Homo sapiens: one gene and its partners. The protein of the gene in region 1 interacts with the protein of each later gene in a biochemical or structural test. Each region holds a gene or a part of one and is shown on either strand. Other genes may lie near its edges. The genes, in order: JAM3, PARD3 and TJP1.

Region 1 (3,746 bases):
AACCACAACATATAACAAGTAGAATAACTGAAAAGAAATTCAGGGAGGGCATGGTGGTGTATGCCCATAATCTCAGCACTTTGGGAGGCTAAGGCAGTAGGATCCCTTAAACTCAGGAGTTCAAGATCAGACTGGGGAACATAGTAAGACCTTGTTTCTACAAAAAAATGTTCAAAAAATTACCCAGGTGAGGCTCCAGAGCCCGTGAAACAAATGTCTTATTTATGCCACCCTGTTTGTGGTATTCTGTCATAGAAGCCCAAGCTCACTAAGACCCCAGATAGAGCAATAAGCACAATGCTTATCACATAGTTTTCAGTAATTGGCAGGTGTTATTAATCATTATAACTCACTCATCCCAAAACAAAACATGTGCATTCCCAAGTCCATGCCTTTGCCCACATTATTTCCTCCACTTTCCCATCCACACCGCTGTCCCTCCCAAATCTATACTTAAGTCAGTCAATTATCTGTACAAGTCCAGCTCCTTTTTGAAATTCTCCTCTACCAGGTCAGCCCAGAGAGAGTAAGTGCTCTCACTTCTAAACCCACAGAATATTTACCCAAATGCTGCTCTGTTATTTGACTAAACTATATGTTCCCTCTGGTAAAGGGAAGACATTATCTTAAGTTCTCCTGCTTTGCCCATGGAATGCTTTACTGCCATGAAAATGGAGACTACCAAATAAATATGGATTGGCTGATTAAGTTTCAGTACCCTGACAGAGATGCTTTAAAGGAAAAACATGCCCCACCCCTGCCAAAAAAAAAAAAAAAAAAAGCAGCTGTCTTTGGATTTGTTGCATTGTCTCTAAGCTTCCAGGCAGCTGCACTTCATTCTAAAGACATTAAATATTTTCCTTAGAGAAAGACATCCAACAGGGAAGTCCATGTTGGGCAGGAAGAAGTGATGGGGCACATCAGCTGACAGAGTGCTTCGGGAAACATCTTTCAGAGTCTAGTTTCAACAGAAGTCAATTTCACCCTGTATTTTTATCACTCAAGAGGAAGAAAACAGAGATCTTCCAGGGGCTGCCACAGAGTAGGTGCTCAATAAATTTTGGCTCGCTTTGAACAGGTGAACAAAGGCCATTACTCAGATCGTTTTGTCAGTGTGTTCAAAAAGAAGGGGGGAGGCCGGTAATCTCGGCAGCTCTCAGTTTTCCAGCTAACCATTTGCTGAGGACACCACAGCTGACTCCCCCACCCAAAAGTCAGTGGCAACTAATCTCTCAAATGAGTCACAAACAATACATTATCAAGCAACTGAACTTCCAGTCAGCCACTCCTTCATCCAATGTGGCTGATATTAAGAAGCTAGAAAAAGGCACAATCCACATGCTATCACATTAAACAAACAAATTATATTTTCCCATTACTAGTGCCAAATTTAAAATTCCACTATTGTATCTACTGGAAGCCAAACCAAGATGCAACTTTTTTCATTACACAAAAAATATCCTCATCAAAGAACATTTGGAAAACAGACAAAGGAATACAAGAATCAACCAGGAAAACAAAAACAAAGAAAAGCAGAAAACAATTTGCTGTAACACTTCCACTCATAAACAGCCCCTATCAACAGTCTGGTTCATTCTCATCCTGTTTTTTCCCCTAAGCATAGATGTTTTGTGTAATCGTAATCATACAGTATATACTAGTATACCTGCAGCTTGTGTCACTTAAATGATATCATAAGCATTTCTCCATCTTTTTCTCCTTCTTAACCTTGTAACTGCACAAAAGCAGATGGCAGAAAGATTCTGAAATTAAACCAAGTCAATAAATTATTACCATTCTCTTTCTTCCAGAATAACTACTGTAGTACAAACTGACACTTTTCCAGAAGTTCCTAGGGCCACTAGAAATAAGACATTTTTTTAAAAATGCCTCGACACAAAGAGAGTGTTTAAGAAATGTTAACTCACTTTCAAGTGACAAAGTGAGATAAACTGAATATTTACTAGAATCACCTCTGGAAAGATACAAAAAAATTAAATTCAGCCTCTGTTACCAACAAAATGTTTATTATCATTGAGAAAATACAATGCACTGACACCTAACAACTAAAGCCCAATGTAAATCGGAGTCAATTACCCTGGCTCTTTAAGGACTGGCGATGTTTTACCCATTTTGCAACCCTAGCACACAGAACAGTGCCTGACACGTCATAGATACTCAATAAATGGGTGTTGTACTAAACTGAACTAGAGACTATGATCTAAGCTTATTTAGAGATAGGAAGGATCACTGTGGGCTGAGGTTGTCAAACATAGCAGATAGCATGACTATGGCAGAATTTGATTTTGGCAATAATTTTCAGGAAGAAGGCTGAACCATAGAAACCTTGGGAAACTGCAAATGAAAGATAATGTAAGAAAAAATGTTCATATAGTCCTAACTCTATTAAATAGTTTGATGTCTTTATACAAGCAGCACTGAAACCTCTGCTGTATGTATTAACTACTCATGGGAAATGTAATATATAACACATAACAAATACTACTTAAAACCAAAAGAAACACACCAACACAAAACACTACAGCATTCCTGGGACATCAGAAACAAGGGCTAACTCTCAGGAAGCTTTCTGTGTGCCATGCCAAGAAGCAGAGAGACAGTCAATTAAGGCTTTAGCTCTCCATATAGAGTACCACAGTGGATACTGTCCTTGCTAAACTAGGTGTAAAAGAATGTGCTTACCAAAACTTTCTTTCGGGATCGCTTTACACTCCAGTGAAGCTATTTGCATATACTGCTAGAATTCTGAGAGTACATGCAAAGATCTGAAATTTGCATTCAACTTTGACAGCATAACATTCACACCACCTGACTATAAACATCTTTTTTTTTCCCCCAAGACGGAGTTTCACTCTTGTACCCCAGGCAAGAGTGCAGTGGCGCAATCTCAGCTCACTGCAACCTCCACCTCCCGGGTTCAAGCGATTCTCCTGCCTCAGCCTCCAGAGTAGCTGGGACTACAGGCAAGCACCAGCACGCCCGGCTAATTTTTGTATTTTTAGTAGAGACAGGGCTTCATCATGTTGGCCAAGATGTTCTTGATCTCCTGATCTTGTGATCCGCCCACCTCGGCTTCCCAAAGTGCTGGCGTGAGCCACTGTACCCGGCCAACTATAAACATATCTTAAAAGAGAATCCAGCTGGGCGTGGTGGCTCACGCCTGTAATCTCAGCACTTTGGTAGGCCAAGGCGGGCAGGTCACTTGAGGTCAGGAGTTCAAGACCAGCCTGGCCAACATGGTGAAACCCCATGTCTACTAAAAACAATAAAAAAATTAGTCAGGCAAGGTGGCACGCATCTGTAATCTCAGCTACTCGGGAGGCTGAGGCAGGAGAATGGCTTTAACCTGGGAGGCGGAGTTTTGCAGTGAGTTTTGCAGTGAGCTGAGCTCATGCCACTGCATCAGAAACTCAGTCTCAAAAAAAAAAAAAAATCCAACTTCACCACTAGGGTATTCTTCAGCAGACTCCATACATCCTAACTTCATTCACACATATTTTCCTTTCTTTTACTACATTTGTGCTTTTAAAAAATTCAAAGAATTTATGGAGAAGGAATTTGCTAATACCACATCTCTAACAGCTGCTAGTCGAATGTACTAAATCCATAGCTGCGTCTGTTACATTATGTGGCCATCTTATACTTGAGGAAAGTCTGGTTGCTTTCAAAAGAACTGATTTAAACCCACCCCATGGAGTTTAAGAACAAGTTCCATGGAGCTTAGG
Region 2 (3,746 bases), on another chromosome or scaffold:
GAGGCGGGCGGATTGACCAGCCTGGCCAGCATGGTGAGACCCTGTCTCTAACTGAAAATACAATAATTAGCTGGGCGTGGTGGCGGGCACCTATAATCCCAGCTACTCGGGAGGCGGAGGCAGGAGAATCATTTGAATCCAGAAGGCGGAGGTTGCACTGAGCCGAAATCACGCCACTGCGCTCCAGCCTGCGCAACAGAGCGAGACTTGGTCTCAAAATAAATAAATAAATAAATAAATAAAAATAAATACATAAATAAATGTAAAAAACACAAAATAAAATAAAGTAGTATACATTCTAAACTAGTAGTATACTCTCCCAATGCATGAAAACAGAAACAACACCTATAATTATCAGTAATTGTTGTTGTGGATCCAAGTATCTATGTAAGAAGCAAAAAACCCACATCAACAGTTGTTGTCATCGTTGTCACAAACTTAATTACTGGCTAGAAATGTCTAGTGCTGCAGCCAAACAGCAGTAGGAGGAGCCTTTCCCATGGCTGAGTGGAAGGAGGGAAACCTAGACTATTTCTGGGTCTGCCTTGAGCTTTCTCTGCCGCCTTGGGCAAGTGACTTTGGCCCTGGGTCAATGTCCTGGAGTAAGATGGGGCTAACACCACTGCACTGATTTGCTGGGACAGGTGGTGGAAAGTGGTGGTCCAGGGCTGGGAGAGGAGAGGAAGGGCAATGTTTCCTAGGAGAAACTGCACTATGCTGGGGCAGCTGCGGTGCTGCAAAGCGCAGGGAGTGTGGCAAGCGGACGAACCTCGTGTCTTGTTTCCTTGTTTTAAGATTGGAGGTGGAGTGGGATGGATGGTCGATCGCCAGCTCTTCCAGCTCTTAAGTGCTCAAGTTCTGCGCCAACCCAGGGGAGCTTGATTGCTTTCACGTGTCTTGGAAACAACTGGCAAAAAAGAATTTCACATAGTCTGGAAAGGGCTTGGGACAGGGACCACTCTTTGCAGACATTTGTCATTCTTTAAACATAATGACATACATTTATTAAGGACTCATAGTCCATAACTAAGACAAAATGAGCTTCAGTTACGTTCCCTAACTCGGTCCACGTTCCTTTAGAACGTCTCAAGCCCGCATGTCACTCATCGCGGAGTCGCAGCCTTCCCCTGGGTTCGGGCGTCTGCGTTAAGCGCCGGCACATCGTGGGGATCCCCGCGTGAGATTTCTCTGCGCCGTCGGAATAGACTGTTCACGGATTCGCGTTAGGATTCCTTATGCTGCAGAACTTCAAAGAAATAAATGTATCAGAATTGCGATGTTTAAGTTCTAATCTATTTAAGCGGGTGGGTCAGCAGAGGGTCAACAGGAAACTTCAAGGTAAATAGTGGCCTCTGGAAAAGGCCCGGTCGCTCACGGCTTCCCCACTGTCTCCCCAGAGCAGACTATTAATTCTTGCGTTTCAGGCAGAACTGCCGCTGCCGGCCCTGCAGCAGAGCTAGGGAGCGGGCAGGGCAGAAACCCAGCCGAGCAAGCTGCAGGCTCGAGTCCCCGCGGGCGGAGAGGCTCGGGCTGGAGCCTCCGGGGCGGTGAGGAGGGGACTCACCGCACTGAGCACAAACTGCTTTCCCCGGGAGCGCCTGCACCCAAAACCCTCCAGTTCGAGGAATGGGATTAAAAGTGACAAAGAAAGGGGAAGGGGGGCTCCGTGGAGACTTCTGGAGGCGTGGAAGGGGCGTCCCCGAGGAGGGGCGACGCAGCCCTGCAGGGTGCTGGGCGGGCGGGGTGAAGGGGGCTGGGGGGCGCCTGGGCCAGGGCTGGTGGGGGCAGACGGCCGCCTGCCCGTGCTGGCACTGGGGCGAGGGGTCCCGCGCCCCCGGAGGGAGGGAGGGAGGGAGGGAAGGAGGGAAGGAGGTCGGCCCCCGAGGGCGGTGGCGGGGGCGCGAGCTGCGGTCCTGCGCTCCGCCCCGCGCGGGTAGCCGGCCGCGCCTCCCCCTGCCGCATGTGCGCGGTGTTGTGTGCCCTGCCCTGCTCCTCCCCCTCCCCTCCCCTCCCCTCCCCTCCCCTCCCGCCGTCCCCTCCCCCAGCGGCCCCGAGCGAGCGCCAGCGCCACACAGCCCCGGGCAGCCGCCGGCGAGCGCGCCGCGACGCCGAACAGGTGGCCGGAGGCTGCGGGCGCCGCGGCGGGGAGAGGCGAGGCAAGCCCCGGGCGAAGCGAGGCGAGGCGAGGGCGGCCGGGCCGGGCATGCGAGCTGAGCGGCCCCCCGGCGTCGCCGCCGCCTGCCCGCGCCCCTAGCCGCCCGCGCGCCCGAGTCCCCAGCGGCTCCTCCGCGCCCAGCGTCCTCGGTCCCGGCCTCGGCTGCTCCGGCTGCGCTCGGCGAGGGGCGCGGGCCCGCCCGCGGCGGCGGCGGCATGAAAGTGACCGTGTGCTTCGGACGGACCCGGGTGGTCGTGCCGTGCGGGGACGGCCACATGAAAGTTTTCAGCCTCATCCAGCAGGCGGTGACCCGCTACCGGAAGGCCATCGCCAAGGTGAGGGGCCGGGGGCGCGGGCGGGGAGGGGGCGGCGGCGGGGACGGCGCCGGGATCAATATGGCGCTTCCTGGAAGGGGGAGGAGAGGCGCAGGGAGGCGGGGAAAGGGAAAGTGCGGCCGGTCGGGCCTCGCGGGCGCCCCCCGCCCCGGACTGCGGGCGCCAAAGTTCTCTGCGCGGGCCGGGGCGCAGCCTCTGGGACACCCAGCCGGGTCCCGCGGCCCCCGCCCTCACCCTCCGCCCGGGAGCTCCGGCCTCGGTAGCGCGGGGCGAGCCGGGCAGCGGCGCATAGGCCGGCCCTGGGCGCCTCCCCGGAGTCTGCAGACCCAGCCAAGCCCCGAGCCAGCGCGCGGGGGGCGCAGGCCGGGAAATCCAGCCCCAGGCCTTTCCCGGCTCCCAGGCCCCGGGGGCACAGGCCGGGGACTGGGAACTTTTGGTGTGAGGAGAGTTTCGTGACTGCCCTTCCGACAGAGGCGGGTTGCGAGCCTTCTGCCTCCTCTCCCTTACTCGGGCGGGGGCGGAACAGCGGCGGGGGGCTTTTCCTCCATGTCCCCTGCTGGTAGGGGCCGGCAGGGGCGGCCCGTCGCGTCCGGGGGCTGCAGGGTTTGGGGAGTCGCCGGCTTGGGGTCGGGGAGGCGTTCCCGGGAGGGCCACCGCTGGCACTTGGCACTCGCTTGCGAGCATTTACTGAGCTGATCCCACTTGCTGGGCTCTGGAAAGCACAACCTTGGAAGAGTCGCGGAATGAAAAGTTTTCCTGCGAGGACCTCAGCTCCTACCTATCCCGGGCTGGTTCCATGTGGCTGGGCTGCGGGGCCGGGCCTGACTTGGGAGTTGAGTGGATTTCCCTTTTTCCTGGTGGACTGATAACATTGTCTCCACTTCACAGCATTCCTCTACTGTGTGTCAGAAGTGAAAAGGCGTTTTGTTAAATTGTTTTACCGACTGTGTCTGTGTTTGACAACAGCCCACGCTGAAGTTTCTCCCAAGCACCCGGGGATATATTTCCTTTGTAGTAGAGTCCTCTTTGGTGGGGAGCGCATTCGTTTGGGTGCAGTATTTCCCATTTGTTCCCGACAGTGGCCTGGCCCCTGTGGGCTTGGGGGCTGCAAATGACGTTGGAAAGTGGCTTGGTCAGCCCTATTGAGCGTACACAGGGTACTCCGGTGGCATCTTCAGTTCTCTCAGAAATTAAGAAGTAAAAGCTTTTTAGACTTTTGTTTTGCTTTTAGTATATATTGGAAAAAATAGCATAAA
Region 3 (3,746 bases), on another chromosome or scaffold:
TAGATTTAGGTGCTATTAAAGACACCACACCTAGTTCTAGGCAGCTTATGCAATTGCACATCTTCTTAAATGGTAAAGATAATGTGAAAGGTCTTTCATCACCACCTTTTAAAATTAAAAAATACTTCCCAAACCTTTTTAAATGGTGTTTGCATATGAAGAAATTTAATCACAATTTTTTTTTTTTAATGGGGTCTCACTGTTTCCCAGGCTGGTCTCAAACTCCTGGCCTCAAAGAATCCTCTGGTCTTGGCCTCCCAAAGTGCTGGGATGATGATGATGATGATGATGATGATGATGATGATTTGAGACGGAGTTTCGCTCTTGTTGCCCAGGCTGGAGTGCAATGGCATGATCTCAGCTCATTGCAACCTCCGCCTCTCGGGTTCAAGCGATTCTCCTGCCTCAGCCTCCTGAATAGCTGGCATTACTGGCGTCTGTCACCATGCCCGGCTACTTTCCTATTTTTAGTAGAGATGGGGTTTCACCATGTCGGCCAGGCTGGTTTCGAACTCCTGACCTCAAGTGATCTGCCTGCCTTGGCCTCTCAAGTGCTGGGATTACAGGCTTGAGCCACTGCGCACGGCCCCAAGTGCTGGGATTATAAACGTGAGCAACTACGCCTGGCCACCATTTTTTTTTTTTTTTTTTTTTTTTTTTTTTTTTTTTGAGACAGAGTCTTGCTGGTTGCCCAGGCTGGAGTACAGTGGCACGATCTGGACTCACTGCAACCTCCGCCTCCTGGGTTCAAGTGATTCTTCTGCCTCAGCCTCCCGAGTAGCTGGGACTACAGGCACGCGCCACACCAGGCTAATTTTTGTATTTTTAATAAAGACGGAGTTTCACCATATTGGCCAGGCTGGTCTCAAACTCCTGACCTCGTGATCCGCTCGCCTCGGCCTCCCAAAGTGCTGGGATTACAGGCGTGAGCCACCACGCCTGGCCCACAATTCTTAAAAGAATAAATAATACTTTGTCCAAAAGCAAAACAATTACAACATGACTTTAAAACAAAAATGACTTCAACCATTTTTATGAAGAACAAAAAGGAATAAGGGTTTGGTTTGCAGAAGGCTCTTTTCTGGTTCAGACAGCTTTGGGTTGCAAGATGTGTGGCACTTCGAAGCCTTAATTGATACTTATGTATCACCTACACATACTTCTTTGTTAAATTTGTTCTTTTCATACAGTTGAATTCTAAAGAGAAAACCATTGTCTAAAGCCTGATGTTTATGATTTCTTCCATTTCTTCTGTGCCGGTTGTGGCACTATACCAGATACTTTAAAGATGTTATCATTGATGTTACTAAGGATTTCTGGCATTTTTTGAAGACCTTTACATTTACAAGTGTAGATTAGTGAGTCTAGGATTGGTTTCTTACCATGTTCCTTGGTGTTTAGCAAAGCCGTCAACATTGTGGGAAGTTTGTGTAGTGGCTGATTAAACTGGACCATGGACTGCACGTGTTTACACCCTTTTCTGCCCAACTTTGAGTTGGAGGGACAGCATTGGAATGCAGGGCAGCTTGACCCGTTCGGTCAACAAGAATTTCAGCAATCTTGATGGCCAAAAATAAACTTTTCAAGATTCCTGTCTAGATGGGCGGGAAAGAGACTTTGGATATATCTTGAGGTCTAATGTGGGGTGTGGGCCGAGATGTCACAGGTCTCTAGGGTGTTTCTCAGGCTGCTGCCTCCGGGTGCCCATGACCTCATCACCAGTTTCAGCCTTGGCAGTCGGCGCCGGTGAACGAGAGCAACGCTTCTGACCCTGCCGGAGCTCCTCGGAGATGAAAGCCATGACGCGCCTTGCAGAAAATGCATTCCGCCTTCCGTGGGAACAACGCCGAGGCACGCGGTGACAGCCGTGACCATGCTGTTTGCCCAGTGAAGGAAACAACTGTCGGGTATCGGCTCTGCCGGCCTTTCCAGCCGCACTCATGCATGGGGCTCACCCCATGATGTGCGTGGCTTGTCGAGGAGCAAGTGGACAAGTCTCTTAAGGAAAGCTTTGGTGCACAGGCGCTTTCTCCTTGGGGGCGAATTCTGCCAGACCTTGGATAAAAACAAACAGGAAGACTCGCACGGCAGCGGAAACTGTCTTCCAAGTTACTTGGGTTACCCGGCTTTTCCTTCCGCGCTTGGGGTCGGGACCCCGGCCGCTCGTCCCGCCCCCTCCCCCGCCGCGGCCCCGCCCCCTCCCCGCCTCGCCTCGCCTCGCCTCGTCCAGCCCCGCCCCCGCCGGGCCGGGCATGCTCAGTGGGCCGGGCCGGCAGGTTTGCGTGGCCGCTGAGTTGCCGGCGCCGGCTGAGCCAGCGGACGCCGCGTTCCTTGGCGGCCGCCGGTTCCCGGGAAGTTACGTGGCGAAGCCGGCTTCCGAGGAGACGCCGGGAGGCCACGGGTGCTGCTGACGGGCGGGCGACCGGGCGAGGCCGACGTGGCCGGGCTGCGAAAGCTGCGGGAGGCCGAGTGGGTGGCCGCGCTCGGAGGGAGGTGCCGGTCGGGCGCGCCCCGTGGAGAAGACCCGGGCGGGGCGGGCGCTTCCCGGACTTTTGTCCGAGTTGAATTCCCTCCCCCTGGGCCGGGCCCTTCCGGCCGCCCCCGCCCGTGCCCCGCTCGCTCTCGGGAGATGTTTATTTGGGCTGTGGCGTGAGGAGCGGGCGGGCCAGCGCCGCGGAGTTTCGGGTCCGAGGAGCCTCGCGCGGCGCTGGAGAGAGACAAGATGTCCGCCAGAGCTGCGGCCGCCAAGGTGAGCGCCTCCGCGGCCGCCAGGGCCAGACCGGGCCGACCGTCGCCGCCCGCCCACCGGCATCTGGCCCGCGTCCCGCCCTCCCTCGCTGGCGGCTGTCTGGGCCCCGGGGCGGCGGGGTGGGCAGGGCTGGCGCGGGGCCGCGGGCCGCGGGCCGCGGGCCGCGGGGAGCCCCTCGGGCGGGGGCGGCGCGGGCCGCACTGGGGGCGGCCGGGGAGGGGGCTGCGGGCGCCCGGCCGCCGTACTGGGCAGGTGCATAGCTGCCGGCGCCTGTGCCTGGCTGCGGCTCGCTGAGGGCGGGGACACGCAACAGGTCCCTCGCGGAGAAACTCGGCTCCAGTGAGGGTTCGGGGGCTGGAAGCCGGCTCTCAGCGGGTCGGGGCTTGGGGTGCCACCTCCTGCTGGCCGGGAGCTGCTGTCTTTGGAGGAGTGGTTGGTCCCCGGCGAAACCCTGTAGTTTCGATCTGATGTCACTCCCTGCGGTATGCGCACGCCAGCGATAAGGCTTTGAGACTGCAAAACACTCCACTCAGCCTGTGAGGCGTAGTAGGTCGGGTTTTCTTTCATGCTGTATTACTTATTTAAGGTAACTTTGAAAATAACCTCTTTAACATTTAATAATTTAACTTGAATTAAACTTTCACAAGTAATACAAAGTATTCCTACGAATGGACAATAAGATGAGCACTTAAAAATTAGTAAAGGCCGGTGAGTTCAGCCGAAAAAAGTAACGTTTTTCCTGTTACTTTTCCTATGTGCTCTGAAATATTATTGCATTTTCCCATTGCTTTGAAACTAACTTGTGTATTACATTAAAAAGCCAAAGTTCCTGAAAAACAGCTAGGATGCTCCTCCCATTTTGTATATTAATTTTTTCATCATAAAATAGTACTTGTTATTTCAAACAAAGGAATACAGAAATGTGAGGAGTAAAAAATCTCCCCTTTAAAGAATATCAATTCATTACTTCAAATAGTATCGAGATACTTGGGCAGGT

Evidence for each region.
Region 2: the proteins of JAM3 (region 1) and PARD3 form a complex in vitro, tested with the Homo sapiens proteins (2 studies listed by BioGRID and IntAct, with this or other methods).
Region 3: the proteins of JAM3 (region 1) and TJP1 form a complex in vitro, tested with the Homo sapiens proteins (2 studies listed by BioGRID and IntAct, with this or other methods).

The regions. Positions count from the first base shown.
Region 1 is NC_000011.10:134,072,023-134,075,768, reverse strand, and holds part of JAM3 (junctional adhesion molecule C isoform 1 precursor), read right to left. Parts: intron 1-3,746. UniProt on the Homo sapiens protein: Junctional adhesion protein that mediates heterotypic cell-cell interactions with its cognate receptor JAM2 to regulate different cellular processes. Plays a role in homing and mobilization of hematopoietic stem and progenitor cells within the bone marrow.
Region 2 is NC_000010.11:34,813,620-34,817,365, reverse strand, and holds the start of PARD3 (partitioning defective 3 homolog), read left to right. Parts: upstream 1-2,069; 5' UTR 2,070-2,370; coding exon 2,371-2,490; intron 2,491-3,746. UniProt on the Homo sapiens protein: Adapter protein involved in asymmetrical cell division and cell polarization processes. Seems to play a central role in the formation of epithelial tight junctions. Targets the phosphatase PTEN to cell junctions.
Region 3 is NC_000015.10:29,821,005-29,824,750, reverse strand, and holds the start of TJP1 (tight junction protein 1), read left to right. Parts: upstream 1-2,282; 5' UTR 2,283-2,722; coding exon 2,723-2,749; intron 2,750-3,271; exon of another isoform or gene 3,272-3,314; coding exon of another isoform or gene 3,315-3,335; intron 3,336-3,746. UniProt on the Homo sapiens protein: TJP1, TJP2, and TJP3 are closely related scaffolding proteins that link tight junction (TJ) transmembrane proteins such as claudins, junctional adhesion molecules, and occludin to the actin cytoskeleton.